Homo sapiens: one gene and its partners. The protein of the gene in region 7 interacts with the protein of the main gene of each other region in a biochemical or structural test. Each region holds a gene or a part of one and is shown on either strand. Other genes may lie near its edges. The genes, in order: SLC45A4, MMP24, GOT1L1, RSBN1, RPS6KA3, KIF17 and HTRA4.

Region 1 (4,213 bases), about 100 Mb from region 7:
ATTATTCACTGTCATTGCTGTCATTCCACTGTGTGAATATATCACAATTTATGTATCCATTTAACGGCTGATGAGCATTTCAGTAGTTTCCAGTTTGGGGCAATTATAAACACTGCTGCTATCAACAGAAACACAATGTTAGGTGTGTATCTAGGAGCAGAATTGCTGGGTAATCAAGGCCTTTCAAAAAGATTTTGAAAGTTGTACCACTTTGCATGTCCACCAACAGTGTCTGGCAGTTCCAGTTGCTCCATTTCCTTGTCAACACTTGATATGGTCAGATTTTCCCATTTCCGATGCTCTTGGAGGCTCTGCTCTGCACTTCACTTCTAAATTCCTTTAGCAACAGGTGAGATGGATCTTACGATTTCTATTTTACAGATGAGGACGCCAAGGTTCTGAGAAATGAAGTAATTCCTCCAAAGCAACTTAAACCCTGGCAAGGGTGCAGGGCTGCGACGTTAACAGGGTTGGCCTCAGCCCATCACATCTGTCTGTTAAAGCCGCCTCCCCAGACCTTGTCTTGATGGGGTTTCCCAGCAGTCCTGCCCTAGGGATTGTGGCCCTTCTACACGTGGGGAGAGACGGATCAGTGTCCCTGGCCAGGGCCAAGCCTGAGAGGGAGGCCCAGCCTCCAGGAAGCTCCGGGTCGGGTCTTCGTCCTGCCCCGCTCTCCAGGTTGGAGAGGGGACCCGCAGAGCGCGGGGCGTTGGGGGAGTTGGGGACGGGGGCGTGGTCCGGGACCAGGTAGGAGGTCTTCGGAGGGTGGCAGGGAGGGGAAAACAGGAGAGTTTTCTCCTGCAGCGGAGGAGGGGCTGCAGCACCTGGATGGGGCCCATGTCGCCGCGCCACGGGCAGGGGCGGAGGGGGCGGGAGGGTGCTTGCCAAGGGGCTGGGCTGCCGGGGGCCGGGGCCTCGTGGCTAGCCGGACCCCTCTGCGACAGAGTGGCGAGAGGAGCGGGGAGAGAAGGTGGGGACAGGCGGGGGCCACCTCCTGCGGCTGCAGAGAGGGATGGGGTGGATTGCGGGCCAGCGCTTTAGGGGAGAGAGGGCGGACGCTCGGTGCGGAGGGGCCGGGGCCGGGGCCGGGGCCGGGGGCGTAGCGGGAGGAGGGCGGGGGCGGGGCTGGATTATGGCTGGGGGCGGGGCCATGGCGAGACGGGGGCGGGAGCCACGGTGCGCGCGGGGGCGGGGCAGGGGCGCGGCGGGGGCGGGGCGGCCGTTCGGGGGCGGGGTGGGCGGCAGCGGAGGCCAATGAGCGCGCGCGGCGCAGACCCCGCCCCCCGAATCCCCGTCCCGCGGCGGCGGGTGCTGCATAGTCATGAGGCGCAGGGGCCGGCGCTGCGTCAGCGGAAGCGGCGCGGAGCGGCTGTTTCCGACCCGATAAAGCGGCGTTGTCTCCGCGCGCCGGCCGCAGCCTCGCAGCGCTCTCTCCGCGCCCGCGTCGCTGACTGACCGCCCGGCCGGCCGGCCGAGGGAGCAGCCCCCGCCCGGACCCGCAGCCGCCTCCCGACCCCGGTGCGCCCGGGGCTCCGCGCCCCCGTAGCCCCTGCCCGGCCCGGCCCGGCCGCCCCGCCGCCCCCGCGGCCCCGGCCGGAGGAGACAGGTGAGTGGCCTGCCGCCCGCAGCCGCCTGCCCCGCCGCCCCCTGCACCTCGCACCTGGGCGCCGGGCACCTGCAGCCTCCCCACCCCCACCTCCCGCACAGCCTCGGCCTCCAGGTCGGGTCCGCGCCGCAGCCCCAGCCCCGCACCTTCTCCGGGGGAGGGGACGTGCCCCCACCCGGCTTGCGCTGGCTCCTCAGGGCCCCCCAATTCCTTCCCGCCTCCTCTTTCCGGATTGCACCTGCCCTGGTCCCCAGCCCTGCAGCCTCCCTCATTCCCCCCACCCCGGCCCCCACCCCGGGGCGCGCGCCTTCATTTGGACCCGGCCCGCTTTCGCACCCATCAGTCCTCCCCGCCCCCAGTTCCTCGGTTTCTCTACCCAGAGAGGAGCCTGGCGCCTCTAACTCCTGGTCCTGACCCTGTCTTGTCCTTCTAACCCCTGCCTGCTATCTCTAACTTATGAGAATTCAACCAGCGATACACCACTCGCGAAGTGGCCCCCTCTCCCCTCTGTCTGGACCGGTCCTCCCAACCGAACACACTCCCTTCTTCCCCTTCTTCCCCTTCCCTTCTTCCCCTCCTTTCCCTCTGCCCAGTGCACACACGACCCTGGCAGCACTGCTAGCCAGTGTCCCCCGCCTCGGACCCCCAGCCTGCACCGCCAGACTGTGGCTCTGCCCCGGTCTCATCGGCACTGCGCTCCCTTGTGTCCCTTTGAAGATACCTTGATTTCCTGAGACCGACCTTGTCCCTGGAGGAAAGAGGCCAGGGCATCAGTTCATCCGGGCCCAGATTCCCTGCTCTGTAGAAGTCCCCGCACCTTCTGCGTCTCAGCACCCGCTGCCCCTTTCCCCTTTGCGCTTAACCCGTTCCTCCCCCAGGTATCCTGCTCTGGATTGGAGCACTTCCAGCAGCGGCTTTTCCAGCGGAGGCGGATCCACACGGGGCCCAGCCTCCTGGTTAGCTATTCAGAATGATTCTAGAAGGCGGGGGCTAGGGAGGGCTGGGAAGGGCCGCTTGACCTCCTAAGGAGCCTGAGGTGTTTGTGTCTCTCCAGTGCGGGTCACTGATGGAGTGTGGCTTCAGGTTCACAGACCTAGCCACTGACCCCCATCTGATACCTCAGCTGACTCCAGCAAAACAGGGCTTGTCGTTTTTATTACTGTTTTGGGGGCTGTCTTTTCCAGTCTATGACCCGGAGCGAGGAGGGTTTACCAGATGAGTGATTGAACTAATTGTTGTGGGGTCAGATGATTCTTGTGGGCTGGTAGATTCTGAATCGAAGCCCATTTCTGCTGGGGAAAAGCCACTGCATCTGCCCAGCATTACTGAGAGCGCCCTGCGCTTCCATTCCCCAGACGGTCTCATCCTTCCTGTGTCATTGGCAGACAGGTAGAATGTGGTAGGAATCTTATCCTTCTGTTATTTTGTGCTGGCTTTAGGAAAAAATAAGAAAACAAAAAGCTGGAGTATTGGTGTACAGGTTAGGGAGTGTAACACATGGGGATCAGAGCAGGTAACACACACTGTCCTTAAAAGAAATGTATAGTGTCCTCACTTTTCTGCTAGGTTTGAATTATTGTTAAAAGAACGAGCAGAGATTATTTAAATGCTTGGGAGAGGTTTTGCAGAAGCCACTTGATGAGAAGAGGCAGCCCTGCAGGTTCCGGGTGGAGGAGACTCAGGCGCAGTAAAGAACTCATGTGTTTCTAGAGAGAGGCTGGGGAACTAGGTCGTCTTACACATCAAGGATTTCACACCCGTTCAGGCTAATTGTTTTTGTGGCAGTGGCTGTAAAGGAAAGAAGCAAATCGTTTGAAATGTGTTTGAAATACACACTGGGTATTTAAAGGTGTGTTTTTTTGGCCCAGGTGTTCACAGGGCGGGGAGTGGGGAGGCTGCCCAGGGCCACCTCCCGGGCCTCGTGGGGGGAGTGGCCTGCTGCCCTGCCGAGATGCGTGCTGCAGCTTTGGCCCTTGTCGCATCGTGAAAGCAGATCAGAGATTGGACTGGGTGAGCTCCAAGGTGTGTGTCTTGCAGCTTGTAACACCCTCTAACTTTGCTTATTGGAGGGGGGTGGGGGAGGGGCGGAGCAAGCCTGTAAACCGGATTCTGCCTCCTTTCCGTGAGCTCTGAGATCCCGCCCCAGCCCGCCCCGCAGATCTGCAGGGAAGGAGAGGGCTGCGGCAGCGGCAGCTCCCCACTTTCCCGATGGAGGAAAGGAGCCGAGGAAGGTATTTCAGCCAATCTTGAGGTTGCTTGGTGGTGAATGGATTGTATCTGTGTTGTCAGGAGAGAGGTGGGGAGGACAGAGGAGTGCAGCGCAGGGGTTCGGGCTGTGATTGTCGTTCTGACCGTGGTGCATCCCAGTGCCCTCTCCCGCTCTTCCCGAGGGTCCTGACGCCCAGTGGCTGGCTGGGGTGGTTTGTGACCAACAGCCTTGTGGCCTGGCACCGAGTGAGGGTGACTGACAAGCACTGTAGGTGGCAGACAACCCCAAATTGCCAGTGCCCTTCTTGGGAACACCCCTGGCAGAGTCGTGTCTGTAATTTGTGGAGGCAGAATATGCTGGAAGCCGCGTTCCTGCTAATGATGGGTGAGGACTGTTCC
Region 2 (3,500 bases), on a different chromosome or scaffold from region 7:
AGGGCGAGACTCCGTCTCAAAAAAAAAAAAAAAAAAAAAAAAAAAAAAAGAAAGAAAAGGTGAAAGATGAGAAGCTACTGCTATCTAGGTAAGATATGAAAGGCCTCCTACACACCTCTCTCCCAGTTCTGTTCACACTGGTATGTGAGGTTCTTGTTCTGGTCAAGTCAGGTGAGCTAGGGAGACCAGTTTACTTGAGCAAATGCTTGTCAAGACAGCACAGGCACCCACAGCCCACAGGCTACGGAGCACAGAAGGAGGGCTCCCTCTGGAGGAGATGACCCAGCCAGAGCCCTGGAGGACAGGCAGGACCTCCACAAGTAAAGCAGCAGAGACCAGGTGGGGGCTGTGGGTCCCAGAAGCTATTCCAAAGGTAGAACAACAGGATCTGCTGACAGATCAGACATGGGGTGAGAGGAAGGAGGGAGGGTCAAGGATGCCCCCAGGGTTTCCAGCTTTTGTAATTGTGAAGCAATAGGGTCCACCAGTCTGCAGCTCAAAATTCTAGGCTGGAGGCCGAGGCGGGCGATTACCTGAGGTCAGGAGTTCAAGTCTAGCCTGGCCAACATGGCAAAACCCTGTCTCTACTAAAAATACAAAAAATTAGCCTGGCATGGTGGTGCACGCCTATAATCCCAGCTACTTGGGAGGCTGAGGCAGGAGAATCACTTGAACCCGGGAGGCGGAGGTTGCAGTGAGCTGAGATCACACCACTGCACTCCAGCCTAGGCGACAGAGTGAGACTCCGTCTCAAAAAAAAAAAAAATCTAGGCTGGAATACTTATTTGGGATCTTTGTTGTTCAATACAGTAACCACTAGTCATACACTAGTATGTATTAAATAAACTACTATTAAATAAACTAGTATTAAATTTCATAGTAATGAAATTTAAATTTATATTTATTAGGCCGGGCGCGGTGGCTCAAACCTGTAATCCTAGCGCTTTGGGAGGCCGAGGTGGGAGGATTGCTTGAGGCCAGGAGTTCAAGACCAGCCTGGGCAACAAAGTGAGACCCCTGTCTCTACCCCCCCAAAAATATATTAAAATTATCATTTCAGTTATAGTTCTTTAGTGGGTCTCAGTCACACTAAGAACTAGTCATTCATCTTAAGACCTCAGTAGCCATATGTGGCTGTGGCTAGGGGCTACTGTAGTGAACGATGCAGATATGGACCATTTCCATCATCACAGAACACTCTACTGGACAGCTCTGATGCAGGTCTGTAAAGCCATGAGCCTGGATGAGACCACCTAGAGCAGTGATTCTCAACTTGGCTGCCCTTTGGAATTACCTTGGGATTCTAATAAAAAAACACAGACACCCAGCCCTCAGCTCTAGAGATTTGGTTTTATTAATAGTTGGGTATTGGGCGTGGTGGCTCACGCCTGTAATCCCAGCACTTTGGGAGGCCAAGGTGGGTGGATCACTTGAGGTCAGGAGTTCAAGACCAGCCTGGTCAACATGGTGAAACCCCATCTCTGCTAAAAAAAAAAAAAAAAAAAAAAAAAAATCACCTGGGTGTGGTGGTACGTGCCTGTAGTCCCAGCTACTTGGGAGGATGAGGCAGGAGAATCACTTGAACCTGGGAGGCAGAGGTTGCAGTGAGCTTAGATCACGCCACTGCACTCCAGCATGGGGGACGGAGCGAGACTCCTTCTCAAAAAAAAAAAAAAAAAAAAAAAAGTTGGAGAGCTGGCCTGGTGCTTCCTGAACATCCAGTTTGAAAAGCTCCCAAAGGTGATCCTAATATGCAGCCCAAGTGAAGAAGCACTGACCTAAGGATGAAAATGTAGAGACGGAAGAGAAGAGGACCCAAGGGCACGCCAGCCTCTAGAGTAGGGCAGATGAGGACACGCAGCCAGCAAAGGAGACTGAGAAAGAACAGCCCATGAGGCAGGAGGACAACCAAGAGAGTGTTTCCAGGAAAGTGTTTCTATGAATCTTGCTGCTCAAAATGTAGTCTTCAGACCAGCAGCATCAGCATCACCTGAGAGTGTGAAGGAATGCAAACTCTCAGGCCCCACCCCAGGCCCTCTGAGCCCTCATCTGCATTTTAGCAACATCCCCAGATGATGCATGTGCTTATTAAAGTCTGAGTCAAGTAACCATTGGATGATCTTGGCAGAGCAGTTGGAGTGGGTGACGGGTAGAAGCTGCACTGGGGTGGGAAAGAGAATAAATGAAGGGGGTGAGGAAGTGGGGCCAGTGCGTGTGAAGGGGGCAAAGAGGGTATGGCCTAAGGAAGAGCGCTGACCCTAAGGAAGGACATGATTGCTCTGTAACAGGAGAGAGAAAAGAGAAGATACCAGATTCGGGGATGGAAAGATGAGAGTCCCATTCTAATGGCTATTTTCATCCATTTTCTCAAAGACTGGGGGAGTTAAACTGGGGAGAGGGAACAGGAGGCTGAACTGGGACAGACTTGTCTCAGAGCTGCCTGGGTGATGCTGAGACTGGCAATGGGAGGCGGGAAACGGCTGCCCCCTCTCTAAGATGCAGCTCCTCTCTCCAGGACCCCCAGCCGAGCCTCTGGAGCCCACAAGGCCACTCCCTACACTCCCCGTCCGCAGGATCCACTCACCATCGGAGAGGAAACACGAGCGCCAGCCCAGGCCCCCTCGGCCGCCCCTCGGGGACCGGCCATCCACACCAGGCACCAAACCCAACATCTGTGACGGCAACTTCAACACAGTGGCCCTCTTCCGGGGCGAGATGTTTGTCTTTAAGGTAGGGCCAATGGATTGGCACCACCCAGCTGGCCCCTGACCTTTCCTCCTCCTCCCCGACATCATGGAGCTGGGGAAGGCTCCTGATTTGGGATTCGATTACAATGGGGCCTGGACAGGAGCTAGCCCAGTGGCCAGGGCATGGGGTCTCTTCCTAGTGCTGCTGGGTGAATCAACTGTTCCCAAGAGGGAGGGGGAAAGATGGGTGATCCCTCACCTCCCCTGGGGTTAATGCTGGGAGAAAGTGCTGGAAGCTGGCTTCTGGTCTGTGACCACCCTTCTTGGGACCTCAGTTTCTCCATCCGAAACCTGGGGGAGTCATTCCTCTAACAAAGAGTGTGTGAAGATCCAGTGAGTACCCGGCTCTGAAGATGGTCAACTTGGAGTAGGGGCTAGGTCAGTGGTGGCTGAGTCTGACTCCAGACCCTACCAAGGCTTGAGGGGCTGCTACTGGCAGCAGCCCAGGGTATATCTTGTCATCTGTCCTCCATCAGCCATGGACTGACAGGGTGGCAGTCTGCTTGACGTGTTGCAGGTTGGGCTCTCGGGGAGTGAACTCTGAGGTGGGGTCTGGAATGCAGGATTTCGATTAGAGAGTACTTTCAGAATCAACATTTGTGAGGGGGAGAAGGAAGCAGGACAGGGAAGAGGGAGAGGTTAAGTGGCAACAGAGGCCCATGGCAGCCTCAGCCACCCCCGCAGGGAGCTCTGGGGCTACGGTGGCCTGTCACTCAGCCTACGTTGGGTCCAAAATATCTGGAACATTATAAC
Region 3 (4,299 bases), 1.0 Mb from region 7:
CCGGGCACATTGGTGGTGAAGGCCTTCTGGGTGAGACATCAACAGTGTTTGCAACAATCATTTAAAGAGTTATTTAACATCAGGCTGGGTGTGGTGGCTCATGCCTGTAATCCTAACACTTTGGGAGGCTGAGGTAGGCAGATCACTTGAGGTCAGGAGTTTGAGACCAGTCTGGCCAACGTGGTGAAACCCTGTCTCTACTAAAAATACAAAAAAAAGCCGGGCGCAGTGACTCACGCCTGTAATCCCAGCACTTTGGGAGGCCCAGGTGGGCAGATCACCTGAGGTCTGGAGTTTGAGACCAGCCTGATCAACATGGAGAAATCCCCCTCTCTACTAAAAATACAAAATTAGTTGGGTGTGGTGGCGCATGCCTGTAATCCCAGCTACTCGGGAGGCTGAGGCAGGAGAATCTCTTGAACCTGGGAAGCAGAGGTTGCAGTGAGCCGAGATCACACCACTGCACTCCAATGTGGGCAGCAAGAGCGAGACTCTGTCTCAAAAAAAAAAAAAAAAAAAAAGAGAGAGTCATTAAACATCAAAAGGAAAAGAAAGCAAGCAATATGCAGACTGACTCTATAGAGGCTGGCTCTTTTCTCCCCTTGGCCTCTGCTGTCTATACTTACTAGTTGGCTGTCATTGAAACTTAACAAATGGCCAGGTGTGGTGGCTCATGCCTGTAATCCCAGCAGTTTGGGAGGCCAAGGCAGGCAGATCACCTGAGGCAAGGAGTTCGAGACTATCGACAAAGTGAGACTCCATCTCAAAAAAAAAAAAAACCAAAAAAAGAAAGAAAAAGAAACTTAACAAACATATGTAGAAGTCTTGGCTCTAGATAACTGAGAGAAATAGGACTGGCTTAGTGAGTTGCCAATTATATTCTAATAATAGGATTCTTTATTAAAACAACTGTGGAAGAAAACAGTGTTTGCTTTTTATTCCTTTTGAAATCTGGGGCACTTTGCAAAATGGAAATCAATGCCTCGACTTGCATTGGTGTGTGATCTGGGGTTTTTGCTTCTGCAGGAGAAGCCCTATCTGGCTTATTGGCTGCCTGCCTTGCCCTATGTCTTTCTTTCTTTTTTTTTTTTTTAATTTGTATAAATGTGTGAAGTACAAGTGTAATTTTGTTAGATGCATACATCGCATAGTGGTGAAGTCAGGGCTTTTAGGGTATCCATAACCCCAACAATGTACATTGTATCTGTTAAGTAATCTCCCATTATCCTTGCCCTGTCATCTAAGGAGTGGGCTTGTTACTTTGGACTGAGCCACCTGGGGCTAGAGAAGAGAAGGCATTGAGTGAGGGAAACGGGCTTGGGAATTCCGGAGATTGTTATCCTGCCCTGCCCGCTGTCTGAGGGGATTCTCCTCAAGTACCCTGGAATGTTCCTGTGGCCCCTGTGGATCGCCACCACAAAGATCATGAGGTTCTGTTGCCCTGGCAACCCGTTGTCCAGCGCCTCTGCACTGGGGCTGCCAAGGTTCCAGGAAGAGGCAGGACTGCCCGGCCCAGCCTTGGAGGAAGACTTCTGGGCAGAAGCGGAACACAGGAGCAGAGACACATAGTCTTGGCTCCAGTTTCGTTTCAGTTATGCCCACCCTTTCAGTGTTCATGGATGTGCCCCTCGCCCACAAGCTAGAGGGCAGCTTGTTAAAGACCTACAAACAAGATGATTACCCGAACAAGATATTCTTAGCCTATAGAGGTAGATGCCTAGCAGTTCTGAAGTATAAGACTTAAGTGATGGTAACTGCCTCTAGGAGGACAGTGTTCCCTGCTGCAGGGGGAGGGGTGCAGCCCAAGCTTCTGTGGGTGGAGAGATCTTTTCTTGTTAACAGAATTACCCAGTGGGGAAAAGTGCAGATAAGGTCCCAGGTCATTCCATGCTCTCTGCCCTTCTCTGGGGGCTTCTAGGGATTTGGTGAGAGCTATGTCCTCTTCCACAACTCTATGCTTGGGGGCCTGCATGGCCATCCCACACTTCTTCAGATTCTTACCTCCTCTCTCTCTCTTTCTCTTTCTCTTCCTGTTCTTGAACCAAGAATGGTTCTCCAGATTGAGCTTTCTGCTATGCAACTGGGGCTCACCACTGTGAAAGTCAGGGTTACCTTTATTTAGCTTCATCTACCTATAACTCTCATTTTGCATATATATATATATATATATATATATATATATATATATATATTTTTTTTTTTTTTTTCTTGAGACAGGGCCTCACTCTGTTGCCCAGGCTGAAGTGCAGTGGCAAGATCTCAGCTCACTGCCACCTTTGCCTCCTGGGCTCAAACCATCCTCTTGCCTCAGCCTCCTGAGTAGCTGGGACTACAGGCGCTGGTCACCATGTCTGGCTGTTTTGTATTTTTTTGTAGAGACAGGGTTTCATCATGTTGCCCAGGCTGATCTTGAACTCCTGAACTCAAGTGATCCACCCACCTTAGCCTCCCGAAGTGCTGGGATTACAGGCCTGAGCCACCAATCCTGGGCTTGTATAATTTTTAACCTTTAAAATGGCATAGGTTTCAGTTGTCTTTTTTAAAAAGACAAAAATAATACACATTCACTAACAGCATATTCTTTTCATCAAGGAGAAAAGAAAAGGGAAAGTTGTATTTTCACAGGCACCTTCCCACAGCCCCATGGAGTCCAGGAGAGATTTGTTTGCAGGCTGTCTGCAGAGCTCAGCCCTGGGGGCCCAAACCAGGCATCTGGAGCTCCCTCTGTGGTTTTCCTCACAGTCTGCATGACAAATGAAGGCCATCCCTGGGTTTCTCTCGTGGTGCAGAAGACTCGACTACAGATTTCACAGGATCCCTCCCTGAATTATGAGTACTTGCCCACCATGGGCCTGAAATCATTCATCCAGGCCTCTCTAGCACTCCTCTTTGGAAAGCACAGCCAAGCCATTGTGGAGAACAGGGTGAGAAGGTGGGCCCTCCCCTGGCTCATTTAGACACAGAGAGTGGCGATCTGGGTCTGCACAACCTTAAACCCGAAGGGGACCTCGGAGGGCCCCCTGGTATTGATAAAAGAGATACCTGAGGCTCAGAGAGTCCACAAGTCCTTAGCCATCGAGTCAGGATCGGAATCTCAGTCCAGTGGTATTCCCACCTGCTCACACTGCTGATTTGAAAGCTCTTTCAAGACAGGAATGATCTGAATTGGAGGTGGTGTTAGTATTCCCATTACTGTTTTATTTTTTAACCTATTATATATATTTTTTGAGACAGAGTCTCACTCTGTCACCCAGGCTAGAGTGCAGTGGTGCCATCTCAGCTCACTGCAACCTCCACCTCCCAGGTTCAAGCAATTCTGGTGCTGCATCCTCCTGAGTAGCTGGAATCACAGGCATGTGCCATCACGCCCAGCTAATTTTTGTATTTTTTGTAGAGACAGGGTTTCACCATGTTGGCCAGGCTGGTCTCAAACTCCTGGCCTCAGGGGATTCCCTGCCTCGTCCTCCCAAAGTGCTGGGATTACAGGCATGAGCTACTGCGTCTCGCCTCCATTACTGTTTTAGAGTGTTATTTCTGTCTATTTCTTTTTATTTTTTAATGTTTATTTACTTATTATTTTTTTGAGACGGAGTCTCACTCTGTCACCCAGACTGGAGTGCAGTGGCCTGATCTCCGCTCACTGCAACTTCCGCCTTCCGGGTTCAAGTGATTCTCCTGCCTCAGCCTCTTGAGTAGCGGGGATTACACATGCCCAACACCACATCCGGCTAATTTTTGTATTTTTAGTAGATACGGGGTTTCAACATGTTGGCCATGACCTCGAGTGATCCACCCACCCCAGCCTCCCAAAGTGCTGGAATTACAGGTGTGAGCCACCACACCTGGCCTATTTGTGTCTATGTCTTGCTGGCAGGTAGGGGGTGTACACACTGTTGGTGACAGTGGTGCCTTCCAGCTTGGCGTCCAGTTTCTCAGAGCTTGGCATAAGGATGCTCGTATAGTTTACATCATCTCTTCTCAAAAAGGTTAGTCTTACCCAAGATGAGGGGAACAGCAATCCCCGTCCCTTGTTCCTAATCCTCACCCCATTTGCCATCTTCACTGTTATCCCTCATTCTCTGTCATGAGCAAAATGGCAGACAAGCCAAGCTATTTATGTCCTTTTCCTGTTAATGTCCCACCTTCAGCCAGTGACTCTCAGCCCCACACTCCAGTACCTCTGTCTCCGTCTCTCTGTTTCCCATGTACCAGCTAGTGGGGGGCTGTGTTCCCACAGAACTGCATGGACTCGTCTTCCAGGACATGGGCTTTACAGTTTATGAATACTCTGTCTGGGAC
Region 4 (3,500 bases), on a different chromosome or scaffold from region 7:
AAGCTTTATTGGAATATAGCTCTGTTCATTCATATATATTGTCTATGGTAGTTTTTGCACTACAGTAGCAGAATACAGTAATTGAGACAGAGACCATAAGACCTGCAAAGCCTGCTGTTCGGCTCTTTAGAGAAGTTTGCCACCCTTGAGTTCACTTAAGAGACATGTTCCTTCCTGCACAGCAGTTCAACAGTATTTAATCTGAATTCATGTGGAGACTAATTACAAATTATTACAATCTCAGACATTTGGAGTTGTTCATAAACAGTTGAAACAAAAATTTAATCTGTAAATGCTAGGGTAAACTTGTTCATCTTTAAAACAGAAAGAAGTGATTTTCAGAGAGATGAAGTGAAATGCTTAAAATTTTTTAGTTGGTGATAGAGCTGAATACAGAACTCAATTTTTTTCCCTCATGGCCCAGTTGACCTCTCTTTCTGCTATGCACACTGGGGTTGATTATTTAACAGAGATATTTAAATGCTGTTTTTATTTCTTATAGGGAATAAGCTTGAGTGTAACTAAACTGGAGGTTACCTATGTGTTTTGAAATCTTAATTTTTTTCTCTCCCTCTTATTGCTCATAAAAACATAGGACAGGCCGGGCGCGGTGGCTCATGCCTGTATTCCCAGACCAAGGTGGGCAAATCACGAGGTCGGGAGTTTGACACCAGCCTAGTCAACATGGTGAAACCCTGTCTCTACGAAAAATACAAAAAATTAGCTGGGCTACTTGGGAGGCTGAGGCAGGAGAATCACTTGAACCTGGAAGGCGGAGGTTGCACTGAGCTGAGATTGCGCCACTTGCATTCCAGCCTGGTCGACAGAGTCAGACTCCGTTTCAAAAAAAAAAATAGGACAAACATACTTCCTTAAAAATCCATGAAAAGAAGTAATGCTTCTTTTTAATTATTCTTAGTAAATTCATGATTTTAATATGTTGTTAAAAAGGAAAGAAAGGAAGGACAGCCCCCATAGGCTGTCTTCTCCAATGTCATTACATGACCGGATTGCTCATATGTATGCTCTTGTGAGTCATCTTTCTTATCTCATTTTTTTTTTTTTTTTTACTCTTGACCAGTTGCCTAACTGCTATCACCGAGTGTAAGTGTTCCTGAGCCAGATGTTTAATGGAAATTTTCTCTCATGTCAAAAAGCAGGGATTTTAAGTCCAGAAACACTTCTTTTTGATGTTAGCAATGGAGAATTATTGGGATTATAAGGGAATTGAAATAAACAATCTTATTTATCAGAACAACAACTGTAGGGACTAATATTTTTCCCTGCTCACCCTGAGAGAGGCAAAAACACCTTTAAGGGCACGAAAACTTTTGAAATGGCACTAAGTAAGATATTTGTTGAAGTAATACTCCCTTTATTCCAAGCTACCTCAGGTCCATTAATTGTAACCAGATAATCTTAGTTGATCATCTAATGGGAGTGTTGCAGGGAGATGTCTGATAGTGGAGGCGGAAAGGAAGAGAGTGTAGGGTGCAGTATGTTAGAAGAATTTGTTTTGGAGTCAGATAGGTGAGAAGTTTGAATCTTGGCTGTTGTGTACTAGCTTTGTGACCTAATATAAATTACATATCTTGTTTCAGGCTGTTTCTTTCTCCGTACTTCATTGGTTTGAGGATTAAAATAAAATAACATATATGGTCCCTATTAGACATTTGGCAAATACGTTTTCTTTCCTCTTTCAGAGATCTTTCTTATGTGTTTCTCTTGATAATCAAGATGATAAGAGACTTATTGTGTGTCACATATTGTGATGAGGGCCTTATAGTCATTGTCTCATTTAATTCTTAAAATAACTCTGTGAGATAGACTCTAGAATTAATAACTTTTTTTTTTTTCTGAGACGGGGTTGCCCAGGCTGGAGTGTAGTGAAGTGATTATAGCTCACTGTAACCTCGAACTCCTGGGCTCAAGCGATCCTCCCACCTCAGCCTGTAGCTAAGCCTAGCTCACTCCTGCAGCTAGGACTACAGGCATGCACCGCCAAGCCCAGCTAACTTTTTTTTTTTTTTTTTTTTTGTAAAAATGGGGTCCTGCTGTGTTGCTCAGGCTGGTCTTGAATTCCTGGACTCTAGCAGTCTTCCTGCCTCAGTCTCCCAAAGTGCTGGGATTACAGGCATGAGGCACTGTACCTGGCCTATTATAACATTTTAAGATGAGAAAATTTAGATTTAAAGAGATTTATGAGCTTACCCAGAGACCTTAGTAAACAATAGAGCTGGGACATTGACTTAGGTCTATCTAACAGTACAGCACCTGTTCTTATCTTAAATAGTACACTCTACTGCCTCTAGAATTCAACTGTTTTTGGCAATAATAGTAGTTATGATGTATTGAGTATTTATTATGTTCTAGGACTATTATAAGTACTTCACATGCGTTTTTCATTTACTCTGCACACTAATTTTATAATGAGATACTGTTCTTTCCTCCGGTTTTACCAATGAGAAGCAGTGCAAAGAATTAACTTGCAAAAAGATATGCTATCTCATTCATTATTGTTGGGAATACAAAATGATACAGCCACTTTGGAAGACAGTTTGGCAGTTTCTTAACAAAACTAAACATACTATACGATCCAGCAGTCATACTCTTTGATATTTACCCCGAGGAGCTGAAAATTTGTGTCCACACAAAAACCTGTAGATAGGTGTTCATAATAGGTTTATTCATAGTTACCAAAACTTGGAAGCAATCAAAATGTCCTTCAGTAGGTAAATGGATAAACTGTGGTACATCCAGACAGTAGAATATTATTCAGTGCTAAAAAGAAATGAGCTATCAAGCCATAAAAAGACATGGAGGAACCTTAAATGCATATTACCAAGTGGAAGAAGCCATCCTGAAAAGGCTGCACATTTTATGATTCCAATTATATGACACTCTGGAAAAGGCAAAACTATCAAGAAAGTTAAAAGATCAGTGGTTGCTAGGGGTTTTAGAGAGGGTTGCATGAATAGGCAGAGCACAGAGCATTTTATAGGACAGTGAAACTACTCTTTATGCAACTTAATTAATGGTGGATACATGTCATACATTTATCCAAACCCTCAGAATGTACAACAAGAGTGAACCTGAATGTAAACCATGGACTGCGGGCAGGCGAATAATGATGCATCAATGTAGACTTATCAGTTGTAACAAGTATTCCACTCTGGCTGGGGGTGATGATAATCAGGGAGACAGACTATGCATTTGTGGGAGCCAGGTGTGGTTATAGTTCTAGGAACCTGAAACTGCTCTAAAAAAAAAAAAGTAAAGGCTTAGGGAAAAAAAAGTTCTAGAAAGTATACTTCTAGAAAGTATACTAGAAAGTTATAGAACAGGGATTTAAACCTAGACAGCGCTCTTAAAACACCATAATATAGAGAGATGGTGGGTAAAGTAAGGCAGTGTTAAAAACATACAATGATTCACAAATGTTTGGCTTTCAAAATGAGTAGTTTTTTGTTTTTCCTTTTTAGTCAGGTATTTATATAGAA
Region 5 (3,500 bases), on a different chromosome or scaffold from region 7:
TTTTTAACATTGCTCAAATTGGAAGATGTCTCACAGTCCATGGGATGTCATAGTTTAATTAGCAGCATGTTTTTCCTTAACAATATATAAAATAATAGTGTATCTTACACTTGATTGTATCTTTTAATCAATGAAATATAGTGTATTCTGTATGTCTACCTCTTGAAGATAATGTGTCCCTGAAGAAATGGTTAAAGTCAGTTTATAGCATCAATAGGTAGAATTTTAACTTTCTTTCTAAAACATACCAACACAAAATGTGCACACCTTTTTATATTTTAGGATGAATCCGTTCTGTTAATTTTTAGGGAAGGAAATTAATATGTCACACCTCCTTCCCCATTACTATAAATACATTTGTTTTAGTTATTTCGAAATGCCATAGGGTAACTGGGTTTTCCTGTCTAGAAATGTAATCCTTTAGATTTTGTCTGTAATGTGGTGTTGGTTCTTACAGAACTCTAAATAGTATATATAGTATTTTTCAAGCCGAAAAGTCTCTGGAGATATGATGTTAAAAGGTGTATCCATGCCTCAAGAATCACCCCCCTCCAAAAAATAAGGTAGTGTGGCATAATCAAGTAAGTTGGGGAAATGTGGCATTAAATAAGATTTAACCTGTCTTTACTGTATAATTTAGAACTTTTAAGATGTTGTATACAATGAATCTGCAAAATGGATATGGCCCACGGCATTTGAGACTTGATGTCAGAACCCCTTTTTTGTAAACCATCTATTGAAGTCTCAGTGGACACAAAGTGCTTTGCAGAACACAGTTTTGGAAAGTCTGATAACTACAGTAACGCGATCCAGTATTGCCTGGAAATGAGCTGTTATGTTTAATTGACTATATTGAAGTGTTTTCTTTAACTGTCAAGAGTTTTGTTTCATTTTGAATTGAAATCTTTCTAAATTAAATTGTATAAAAATGTTCCGTCTTAATAGTGAATATAAATTTAATAATAATTTAAATAAAAGTTAAAAATAATTTACACTTTTGATTCACTGTTCTGAAAATTAATGGTCATATTCTACTTAATATCAAGCTAATTGCCCCTACTAAATGGCCTGTACCTTGACTGTTTCTGTAACTTATGTCTAATATTTGTAGTTTAAAAATTCTCTTATATGCCACTTTATGCCACTGTTAATCTGCTTTTCTCTCCCATTTTCCTGTTTAAATTAATTGCTTCTTGTTTTCACTTACTAGAGAATAGATAGCTAGGATTAGTAATATAAAAAAGTTACAGTTTCCAAATAATGTAAAATAGCATCCTCACTCTTTTTCTGGTCTCTGCTCATCATGTACAAATACCTCTGGGGTCAGGGGTATTTGCTGGGCATATTACCAAATAATAAATAGTGATTTTATGTTTTACATACCATAACAGAATGGCTCAATTGCTGACATTACCTGCCCTGCATATTTACCTTCCTCTCTTGAAGATGTCAGCTAGAAAGTAGAACATGAATGAACTAAAAAACAGGCAGCTTTAAATTGAAAGCTAGCCTACTGCCCTGCCTGGAGTCACATCTCCACATTGTGAGTCCTTTTCTGTTGTTCTCATAAAGTAGTGCTAGTTTCCTAAATATTTGTTACTCTACACGTAGGTGTAAATCTAAAAGCACTTTTAGATTTCTTGTCATAGTAGAATTACAACCATAAGTTAAATCGAATTTTCCCATCTTAACTAATATATCCATGGTCTCTTATATAACTTAAAAACTTGTTTTGTCCACCATATAAATTGATTTTTATAATCTTACATATGGTGATAATCTCATCTTCAAATCTGACCTGGTCATTTAGATTTCTGTGAGCTTGTCTCTAATTCTTTGGGCCACAAAGCTTGTCCTAGGAAACTTGGTTCAGTCATTTGATATGTGTTAGAAGCAGATGTCAAATGATAGCCTGAAGCAAAAGATCATTTTGACATTAATAGATTGAAATGCATCTCAAGTGCAGTGGTTTGGGATAAATCTTCACTCCAGAAATCTTGTAAAACCTGTGGCAAAAATCTCAGCTACCTAGAATGTTACTTCATTTCTTCACATTTAGGAACAGAGGCATCTATCTGAAAATAATGTAAAATAATAAAGATTTACTTAAAATCACAAAAAATTTCTGGATCAGCACTGTTTAGTACAGTAGCTGCTATCTATATGTGGCTGTTGAGCACTTGAAATGTGGCTAGTGTGGAAGTGAACTTTTAAATTTTATCTAATAGTCACCAGTGGCTATTGGCTACCATGTTGAACAGTACAATTCCAGATTACAGGATTAGTACAAATTGAATGCATTTTTTACACCAGTGTTTTTTCATTTCTACCTTGTATGATTTGTATCTTGAAATTAATAGGCTAAACCTTTTCTAAAAACAAATATTTAACATGCTTTTTCAAATTATGTTTAATCAGGTTAGTTTTGTCCTTTTCTACCCTGAAGATTCTGATAAACCCTCTAGGGTGGTACATACCCCACAAATCACCATTCTACTCTTCCTACAGCTTTAATAGTTTTACTGTGACATCTCATTCAAGTGATAACACTAAAGCATTGGGGCAAATTTAAATATCAAAAAATGTTGTAATTACAAGTTTCCTCTTGTGCACCGAGCTTACAGACCGAGACATAAACAGTAAGACTAATGTCTCTGGGGAGAAAAATATACAATTATCTTCTATATTATTGGATAAATAAATTACTGTATGGTAATTTGTTTAAATATTGTGTTGCATTCACTGTACTGTGCTAGTTAAAACGGAAAAAGTGGATTGGTGCATTTTGAAATATGAAAGCATTTAAATTTTTTTAGCATATAATTTTAGAGAACAACTTAGCCCTACCCTATTTATGTAAGAAAATTGAGACCTGTTCAGGCAGACCTGCTGCAGGTGATATGTTAACAAAGTCAGAGTTGGCGTGTGCAGCACATTTATTTCACTAAAATTCATTTTGTCATCCACATCATATCAATACAACTCTTTAATTTTATGTAAACTATCTTAAATACAAATTCTGAAAGAGCCACAATGCACAAAAGTTCAAATATTACTTTTTCTCTACTCTCTGCTAATTTTAACTCGTAAGTCTGGAAAATACAGTCCTTAGTTTACAAAAACAACTTCAGAATGTTCCTACCTACAAACCAAGGGTGAGGGGTACGTTAAGATCACTGCTCTTTCTTTCCCAAGTGAAGATGGAAGGAAGCTCACGTCTATTGAGTGCCCCCCTTGACAAGTCACTTTGTGTATATCAACTTGAATGAAGTATACAGAATTATCCTCAACTTACAGATGAGGAAACTGAAGCCTAGAAGGGTTAAATAACGTGCTCATGGTTGCCCAGCTAGTAACTGAAGGAGCCAGAATTCAAACCCAAGTCTCACAGATTGCAAATTCTAATGACTTTTCACTACACAGCCCTGTTTGAGTTGAGAACATCCAGGTGAGTGACTCAGTCTAAATGAAATCTGCTACAGGGGAAAAAGGTTCCAGGT
Region 6 (3,500 bases), on a different chromosome or scaffold from region 7:
AATTACCTGGCGACCATTTGTGGCAGTGCACGGGGAATGGCGGATGGGGACAACCCTGATCAGCTGCAGAACCCACTGTGCCACTCTCAGGACTCATCATGGTGGCCACAGCAACATGTAGGGCCTTGGAGAGCTGCCAGGGACCAGCCCAGAGCCAGTGCTTGGCCCAGGCCTTCCCTGTGGCCTCAGGTGTTTTTTTTTTTTTTTTTTTGAGACGGAGTCTTGCTCTGTCACCCAGGCTGGAGTACAATGGCATGACCTTGGCTCACTGCAACCTCTGCCTCCCAGATTCAAGCAATTCTCCTGCCTCAGCTTCCCGAGTAGCTGGGATTACAGGCGCCCATCACCACACCTGGCTAATTTTTGTACTTTTAGTAGAGATGGAGTTTCGCCATGTTGGCCAGGTTGGTCTTGAACTCCTGGTCTCAGGTGATTCATTGGCCTCGGCCTCCCAAAGTGTTGGGATTACAGGTGTCAGCCACCGCACTTTTTCTTTGTTTGTTTTTGTTTTTGTTTTTGAGACGGAGTCTTGCTCTTTCGCCCAGGCTGGAGTGCAATGGCGCGATCTTGGCTCACTGCAACCTCTGCCTCCCGGGTTCGAGCAATTCTCATGCCTCAGCCTCCTGAGTAGCTGGGATTACAGGTGTCCACCACCATGCGCAGCTAATTTTTTTTTTTTTTGAGACGGAGTCTCGCTCTGTTGTCCAGGCTGGAGTGCAGTGGCGTGATCTCAGCTCACTGCAAGCTCCGCCTCCTGGGTTCACGCCATTCTCCTGCCTCAGCCTCCTGAGTAGCTGGGACTACAGGCACCCACCACCATGCCTGGCTAATTTTTTGTATTTTTAGTAGCGACAGGGTTTCACCGTGTTAGCCAGGATGATCTCGATCTCCTGACCTTGTGATGTGCCTGCCTTGGCCTCCCAAAGTGCTGGGATTGCAGGCGTGAGCCACCGCGCTTGGCCTAGCTAATTTTTGTATTTTTAGTAGAGACGGGGGTTTCACCTTGTTGGTCAGGCTGGTCTCGAACTCCTGACCTCAGGTGATCCAACCACCTAGGCCTCCGAAAGTGCTGGGATTACAGGCATGAGCAGCGCCCCGCCCTGTTTTTTTTGTTTTGTTTTGTTTGTTTTTTGTTTGTTTTTGTTTTTGTTTTTAACCTGAATAACGAGGAGGCCTCTGTTTCCTTTCCCATGAGGCTTGTAGACAGAGCATTAGACAGCAATATGAAGATTATGCAACTCAAAGAGGCCTGAGCGCCCACCAAGCTGGAGACAGGAGAGAGCTTGCCAGGAAGGCCAGCAGGGCGGGTTGGGTTGGAGACTCCTCTTGCCCCGATGTCCCTTCTCCTCCCATGATGTCCTGGTGGCAGAGGGCCCAGGCCCCAGGGTCAGACCTGGCAGCAGGTGGACTTCGAGCTCTGAGGTCTAGGTTCTTTCTGTGTACTCCCTGCAGTGTGCAGAGAACACTAAGTTCCTGGTCCGGGCCTCCTACCTGGAGATCTACAATGAAGATGTCCGGGACCTCCTTGGGGCTGACACCAAGCAGAAGCTGGAGGTGGGTGCAGACCCATTGTGGGCAGGTGGGGCTGGTAGGGGGGAGGTTGGCATTGGTGCTGCTCCCTCAGAAATATGGGAAAGTGTCCTGAGGGTGCCGGCACTGGGAGGCTAGAGTCGGGACTTTTTTTTTTTTTTTTAATTAAAAAAAACTTTTTTAGGCAGGTGCAGTGGCTCTTGCCCGTAATCCTAACACTTTGGGAGGCCAAGGTGGGCAGATCACTTGAGGTCAGGAGTTCGAAACCAGCCTGGCCAACATGGTGAAAACCCATCTCTACTAAAAATACAAAAACTAGCTGGGCGTGGTGGTGCATGCCTACAGTCCCAGCTACTGGGGAGGCTAAGGCAGGAGAATCACTTGAACCCAGGAGGTAGAGGTTGCAGTGAGCTGAGATTGTGCCACTGCACTCCAGCCTGGGCAACACAGTGAGACTCCGTCTCAAAATATATATATCTATATTATATATAGTATCTATATATAGATAATATATATATAATATAGATAATATAGATAATATTATAGATAATATAGATATATTATATATATAATATAGATAATATTATCTATATTATATATAGATAATATCTATAATATAGATAATATTATCTATATCTATAATATAGATAATATCTATATTATATATATAGATATTATCTATTTATATATAGATATTATCTATATTATATATAGATATAATATAATTTTATATATATAATATATATAGATATAATATAATTTTATATATAGATAATATTATCTATATTATATATAGATAATATTATCTATATTATATATAGATAATATTATCTATATTATATATATAGATATTATCTATATTATATATATATAGATATATATAGATATATATATAGATAATATTATCTATATATATAATATAGATAATATCTATAATATAGATATATATATGACAAGGTCTCGCTGCGTTGCCCAAGCTGGCTTCGAACTCCTGGCCTTGAGCCTTCCACCTCAGCGCCCCCGGTAGCTGGGACTACAGGCATGCACCACCACATGCACCCAGCCACTTGGTGTTTTTTATGCAGGAGCCTCCAGCCTCCCACCTAGAGTTTTTCTACTGCGTTCCCTCTCCTAGTGCAGCTGAATCATAGCTCAGCCCCCAGACAGGGAAGCAGAGACAGGAGGCAACAGAGGGTGTTGCTCCCACATGTCAGCCCCAGAAGGCCAGCCTGTGGAGTTAGGGCACTCTGGCCCCCTGCAAACCTTCTGCTAACCCGCACTGGAGCAGCAGGGAGCCCTCCTCCCCTTCGTCACTACCCTGGACCCTAGAAAGGCCTCAGTTACCCGGGCCTAGAGGGGCCGAAGGCTGGCAGCTGCTCACACTTGCTGCAGCTGAGCCATGGGTCTCAGGCCTATTGAACCAGCTGCCTTGGGGGCTGCAGTGACAGATGCGCTTGCTGAAACACACTCCAGAGGTCACCGGGCTTTAGACACGCTCCCTCGTGGAGGATGTGCAGATGGCTCTCATGTAAACCTCCTGGCAGTCCAGGAGGAGGCACCGTTCCTATTCCTTGTAACAACAGATGAGGAAACTGAGGCTCCATGTGCCTAAGTAAGACCAACCCAAGGACACACAGTCAGTAAAGAGTGGCGATGGGATTTGAACCCGGGGGCTCCACAGCACACACTCTTAACCCGTGCTTAACACAGGCCCGATCGTGGTTGTAATCAGAGGTTATTACATCACCTAAGGCCAGCAAGAGGTTTGGGGAAGCAGAGTTCTATCCCCTCCCCCTAGCCACTGTAAACTACCATCACAGAACCCAGCCCTGAACTGCCTGATCTGGTGAGGCCTGAGGGGGCCTCTCCAGCGGGTTCTTCCCACCCATGTCCAGGCAAAGTGTCAAGGGCTCCCCTCCCCGTGGCAGCGATGGACACATTCCTGCCATGCTCCCCTCTCTCATCCTTGC
Region 7 (3,500 bases):
GCTTGGCCTCTAACTGTTTCTATTAACTATCAAGCAGTCTTTTTTTTTTTTTTTTCCTCCTTCAACAAATGCTGCTTCAGGGAAAATTATTTCTCTACTTGTCTTAGGATATCAGAAATTACTGCGATGGACTCAAAGTTGCTAAGGAATACTTTGAAGTCCTTCCTACACATAGTACTGGTAGTCTGCACATCACATATATTGACATGGTGTCTGAGAGCTTTTTAGAAGTTCAGAGTCTCAGCCTTTACCCAGATAGATGTGCTGACTCAGAATCTGCATTAACATAACATCCCTAGGTGATTTGCATGCACATTACAGTGTGAGAAGTGTCACCCTGGGTGATCTCCTTTCTGTTTGTGGCTTATTCACTTTGACTGTTAAGCTTTGAGCTGGAATGGTGCTGTGTAAATTCCTAATGTCAGTTTATGTTCATCAGTGACTTCACTGGCTGTTTACTAATAGTAATTTCTACAAAGTAATTGTTTTAGATCTTAGAAATGATCCTAGTCATCTTAACACTCAAGAGCTTCATGGTAGTTGGACTTTGAGGAAGAAGTAGAAGGCAATCATAGAAGCTGTGTGAGTGGGTGCTTCTCAGGTGGTAAGGGCCAAGGTGATAGAGACAGCGTCATATATGTGTTAGACACACACTTTGGTCAATTCTGATCGTGATTTGTTCTTTACCCTTTCTGTCCTCCCCATCCCTTTTTGGGCACGTGCAGGCTGAACTTCCTGTACTGATGCTGGGAAGATCATCTGACCTTCGGGCTGGAGAGTTTGTGGTGGCTTTGGGCAGCCCATTTTCTCTGCAGAACACAGCTACTGCAGGAATTGTCAGCACCAAACAGCGAGGGGGCAAAGAACTGGGGATGAAGGATTCAGATATGGACTACGTCCAGATTGATGCCACAATTAATGTAAGTCACTTAGGACAGAGGTGCCCAACCCATGGGCTGTGGACCAGTACAGGTCCATGGCCTGTTAGGAACTGGGCCGCACAGCAGGCTGTGAGCCATGGGCGAGTGAGAATGACTGCCCGAGTTCCACCTCCTGTCAGATCAGTGGCGGCATTAAATTCTCATAGGAGTGCAAACCCTATTGTGAACTGCGCATGCAAGGGATCTGGATTGCATGTTCCTTATAGAATCTAACTCATGCCCGATGATCTGAGGTGGAGCAGTTTCATCCCAAACCACCCCTCCGTCTGTGGAAAAATTGTCTTCCACAAAGCCGGTCCCTGTGCCAAAAAGTTTGGGGATTGCTGACTTAGGAGGCCTTTCCTCAGATCACACAATATTGGCAGTTCAGTGAGAAGAATATGTCAGAGTGAACTTTGGGGATGTCCAGGTTTGGTTGAATCACTGTGGGAGGAATGGAATGCCACTTTGTTAGAGTCTGTCTCGTTCGCTGTGATCGCTGGCATCCATGCTATTAGGTGGTCTGTTGTAGAGGTCACCCCTCCTGTAAGAAGGTGGTGGTCCCTTGGCCAGGCACGGTGGCTCATGCCTGTAATCCCAGCACTTTGGGAGGCCGAAGGGGGTGGATCATGAGGTCAGGCATTCGAGACCAGTCTGGCCAACATGATGAAACCCTGTCTCTACTAAAAATACAAAAATTAGCTGGGCATGGTGGCGGGTGCCTGTAATCCCAGCTACTCAGCAGGCTGAGGCAGGAGAATCACTTGAACCGGGAGGCAGAGGTTGCAGTGAGTCGAGATTGCGCCATTGCATTCCAGCCTGGGCAACAGAGTAAGACTCCGTCTCAAAAAAAAAAAAAAAAAATGAAGGTGGTGGTCCCACTGCTATAGTTCTTTACCTACACTGACTTTGGTATTGGTGATGATAGGGGCACAATTTTGCCGGCCTGGGGGGAATAGGAGCTTGGTGGGCTGCTTTTGGTAAACTGTTTTGGGAGCTATGTGTAAAGGACAAGGGGGAATGTATTCATTAGCTTCACTGATGTCTTTTTCAAATTCTGCTTTTAGTATGGGAATTCTGGTGGTCCTCTGGTGAACTTGGTAAGTGATCACTTTCCTTGTTGCTTCATGTTTCTTCTTAACTTTCAAAGACTTTATTAATTCCAGGCCAGGGGTGGTGGCTCATGCCTGTAATCCCAGCACATTTGGGATGACTGCTTGGGGCCAGGAGTTTGAGACTAGCCTGGGCAAGACAGCAAGACACCATATCTACAAAAACAAAAACAAAAAAGGACTTTACATATTCCATGATGCAGACTTGGGTGCCACTCTTGTGTAGAGAGCTGTGGAATGGTGCTTTTCTGTTCTTGGACCTTAAGTCAATAGTTAGAAAAAATTCAAGATTGTTATCCTGGTGTGTGATCTCATCCCACTGAGAACACTAGGGTTCTAGCTCCGGCTTCCTTTGAAATTTCTCTCTTCCCCGTGCTTTCTGTTTTCATTGGCTAGTTACCCAAAGCCCTGGATTTTATTTATTTATTTATTTATTTAATAGAGACGATGTCTCACTATGTTGCCCAGGCTGGTCTCAAACTCCTGAGTTCAAGTGATCCTCCTGCCTTGGCCTCCCAAAGTGTTAGGATTACAGGCATGAGCCACCATGCTGTGCCAAAAGCCCTGGATATTAAACCCAGGTTTATGCCAAATGACCAGCTTTGCTATGAAATGTAGGTCCTTGAAGACTCCTTGATGCTGCATATGAAGAACTATCTCTCATTTAAAAATGCTAATTACATAATGTCATCTGTCCAGGTTTTTAGTCTTGACCTCTTGACCTGCTTATAGATGAGAGAAAAGCCACAACCAGCACTCCTGACTTCAAGTGAGCTGCCTGCCTTGGCCTCTCAAATACATTGCCGTGTCATGTATTCTTAAATTGTATTCCGTGTCTCTAGTGGAAATGTCAGGGTTTCTAGTTGCCCAAATACATGTGAAAACCTAAGAGAGTGCAATGCTGTTTGACACATAGCATGTGATCATCCTTTCTGAGTCCCTTTGCACTGATTGCTTTTGGTTCCTGTTTAAATATTACATTTGCTTTTAGAATGAATTTTATGCAAAATGATTGTTTTTTTTTTTTTACTCATAGCATTGCATGTCATTTTTCTTTGTTTTGTTCCTGCCTTCTCCATTAGACAATGAGTTTACTAGAGCAGGGATGAAATGCAGAATTTCAGGCCATACCCCCGACCTACTGAATTACAATCTGTAGTTTAACACAATCAGAAATCTCTTTTCTGGCTGGGTACGGTGGCTCACTCCTGTAATCCCAGCACTTTGGGAGTCTGAGGTGGGTGGATCACCTGAGGTCAGGAGTTCAAAACCAGCCTGGCCAACATGGTGAAACCCCATCTCTACCTAACATACAAAAAAAAAAAAAAATTAACTGGGCATGGTGGCATGCGCCTGTAATCCCAGCTACTTGGGAGGCTGAGGCAGGAGAATCGCTTGAACCCGGGAGGCAGAGGTTGCAATGAGCCAAGGTTGCACCAATGCACTCCAGCCTGGGCAACACAGTGAG

Evidence for each region.
Region 1: the proteins of HTRA4 (region 7) and SLC45A4 interact in a test that uses a peptide from one of them, tested with the Homo sapiens proteins (one large-scale study listed by IntAct).
Region 2: the proteins of HTRA4 (region 7) and MMP24 interact in a test that uses a peptide from one of them, tested with the Homo sapiens proteins (one large-scale study listed by IntAct).
Region 3: the proteins of HTRA4 (region 7) and GOT1L1 interact in a test that uses a peptide from one of them, tested with the Homo sapiens proteins (one large-scale study listed by IntAct).
Region 4: the proteins of HTRA4 (region 7) and RSBN1 interact in a test that uses a peptide from one of them, tested with the Homo sapiens proteins (one large-scale study listed by IntAct).
Region 5: the proteins of HTRA4 (region 7) and RPS6KA3 interact in a test that uses a peptide from one of them, tested with the Homo sapiens proteins (one large-scale study listed by IntAct).
Region 6: the proteins of HTRA4 (region 7) and KIF17 interact in a test that uses a peptide from one of them, tested with the Homo sapiens proteins (one large-scale study listed by IntAct).

The regions. Positions count from the first base shown.
Region 1 is NC_000008.11:141,305,489-141,309,701, reverse strand, and holds the start of SLC45A4 (solute carrier family 45 member 4), read left to right. Parts: upstream 1-1,413; 5' UTR 1,414-1,606; intron 1,607-1,809; exon of another isoform or gene 1,810-2,562; intron 2,563-3,750; exon of another isoform or gene 3,751-3,837; intron 3,838-4,213. UniProt on the Homo sapiens protein: Proton-associated sucrose transporter. May be able to transport also glucose and fructose.
Region 2 is NC_000020.11:35,264,690-35,268,189, forward strand, and holds part of MMP24 (matrix metalloproteinase-24 preproprotein), read left to right. Parts: intron 1-2,515; coding exon 2,516-2,730; intron 2,731-3,500. UniProt on the Homo sapiens protein: Metalloprotease that mediates cleavage of N-cadherin (CDH2) and acts as a regulator of neuro-immune interactions and neural stem cell quiescence.
Region 3 is NC_000008.11:37,937,325-37,941,623, reverse strand, and holds the start of GOT1L1 (putative aspartate aminotransferase, cytoplasmic 2), read left to right. Parts: upstream 1-1,499; 5' UTR 1,500-1,594; coding exon 1,595-1,709; intron 1,710-2,742; coding exon 2,743-2,924; intron 2,925-3,874; coding exon 3,875-3,986; intron 3,987-4,237; coding exon 4,238-4,299.
Region 4 is NC_000001.11:113,802,477-113,805,976, reverse strand, and holds part of RSBN1 (lysine-specific demethylase 9), read left to right. Parts: intron 1-3,500. UniProt on the Homo sapiens protein: Histone demethylase that specifically demethylates dimethylated 'Lys-20' of histone H4 (H4K20me2), thereby modulating chromosome architecture.
Region 5 is NC_000023.11:20,256,910-20,260,409, reverse strand, and holds part of RPS6KA3 (ribosomal protein S6 kinase alpha-3), read left to right. Parts: intron 1-3,500. UniProt on the Homo sapiens protein: Serine/threonine-protein kinase that acts downstream of ERK (MAPK1/ERK2 and MAPK3/ERK1) signaling and mediates mitogenic and stress-induced activation of the transcription factors CREB1, ETV1/ER81 and NR4A1/NUR77, regulates translation through RPS6 and EIF4B phosphorylation, and mediates cellular proliferation, survival, and differentiation by modulating mTOR signaling and repressing pro-apoptotic function of BAD and DAPK1.
Region 6 is NC_000001.11:20,711,508-20,715,007, reverse strand, and holds part of KIF17 (kinesin-like protein KIF17), read left to right. Parts: intron 1-1,452; coding exon 1,453-1,554; intron 1,555-3,500. UniProt on the Homo sapiens protein: Dendrite-specific motor protein which, in association with the Apba1-containing complex (LIN-10-LIN-2-LIN-7 complex), transports vesicles containing N-methyl-D-aspartate (NMDA) receptor subunit NR2B along microtubules.
Region 7 is NC_000008.11:38,977,228-38,980,727, forward strand, and holds part of HTRA4 (serine protease HTRA4 precursor), read left to right. Parts: intron 1-725; coding exon 726-920; intron 921-1,987; coding exon 1,988-2,020; intron 2,021-2,731; coding exon of another isoform or gene 2,732-2,764; exon of another isoform or gene 2,765-3,258; intron 3,259-3,500. UniProt on the Homo sapiens protein: Serine protease.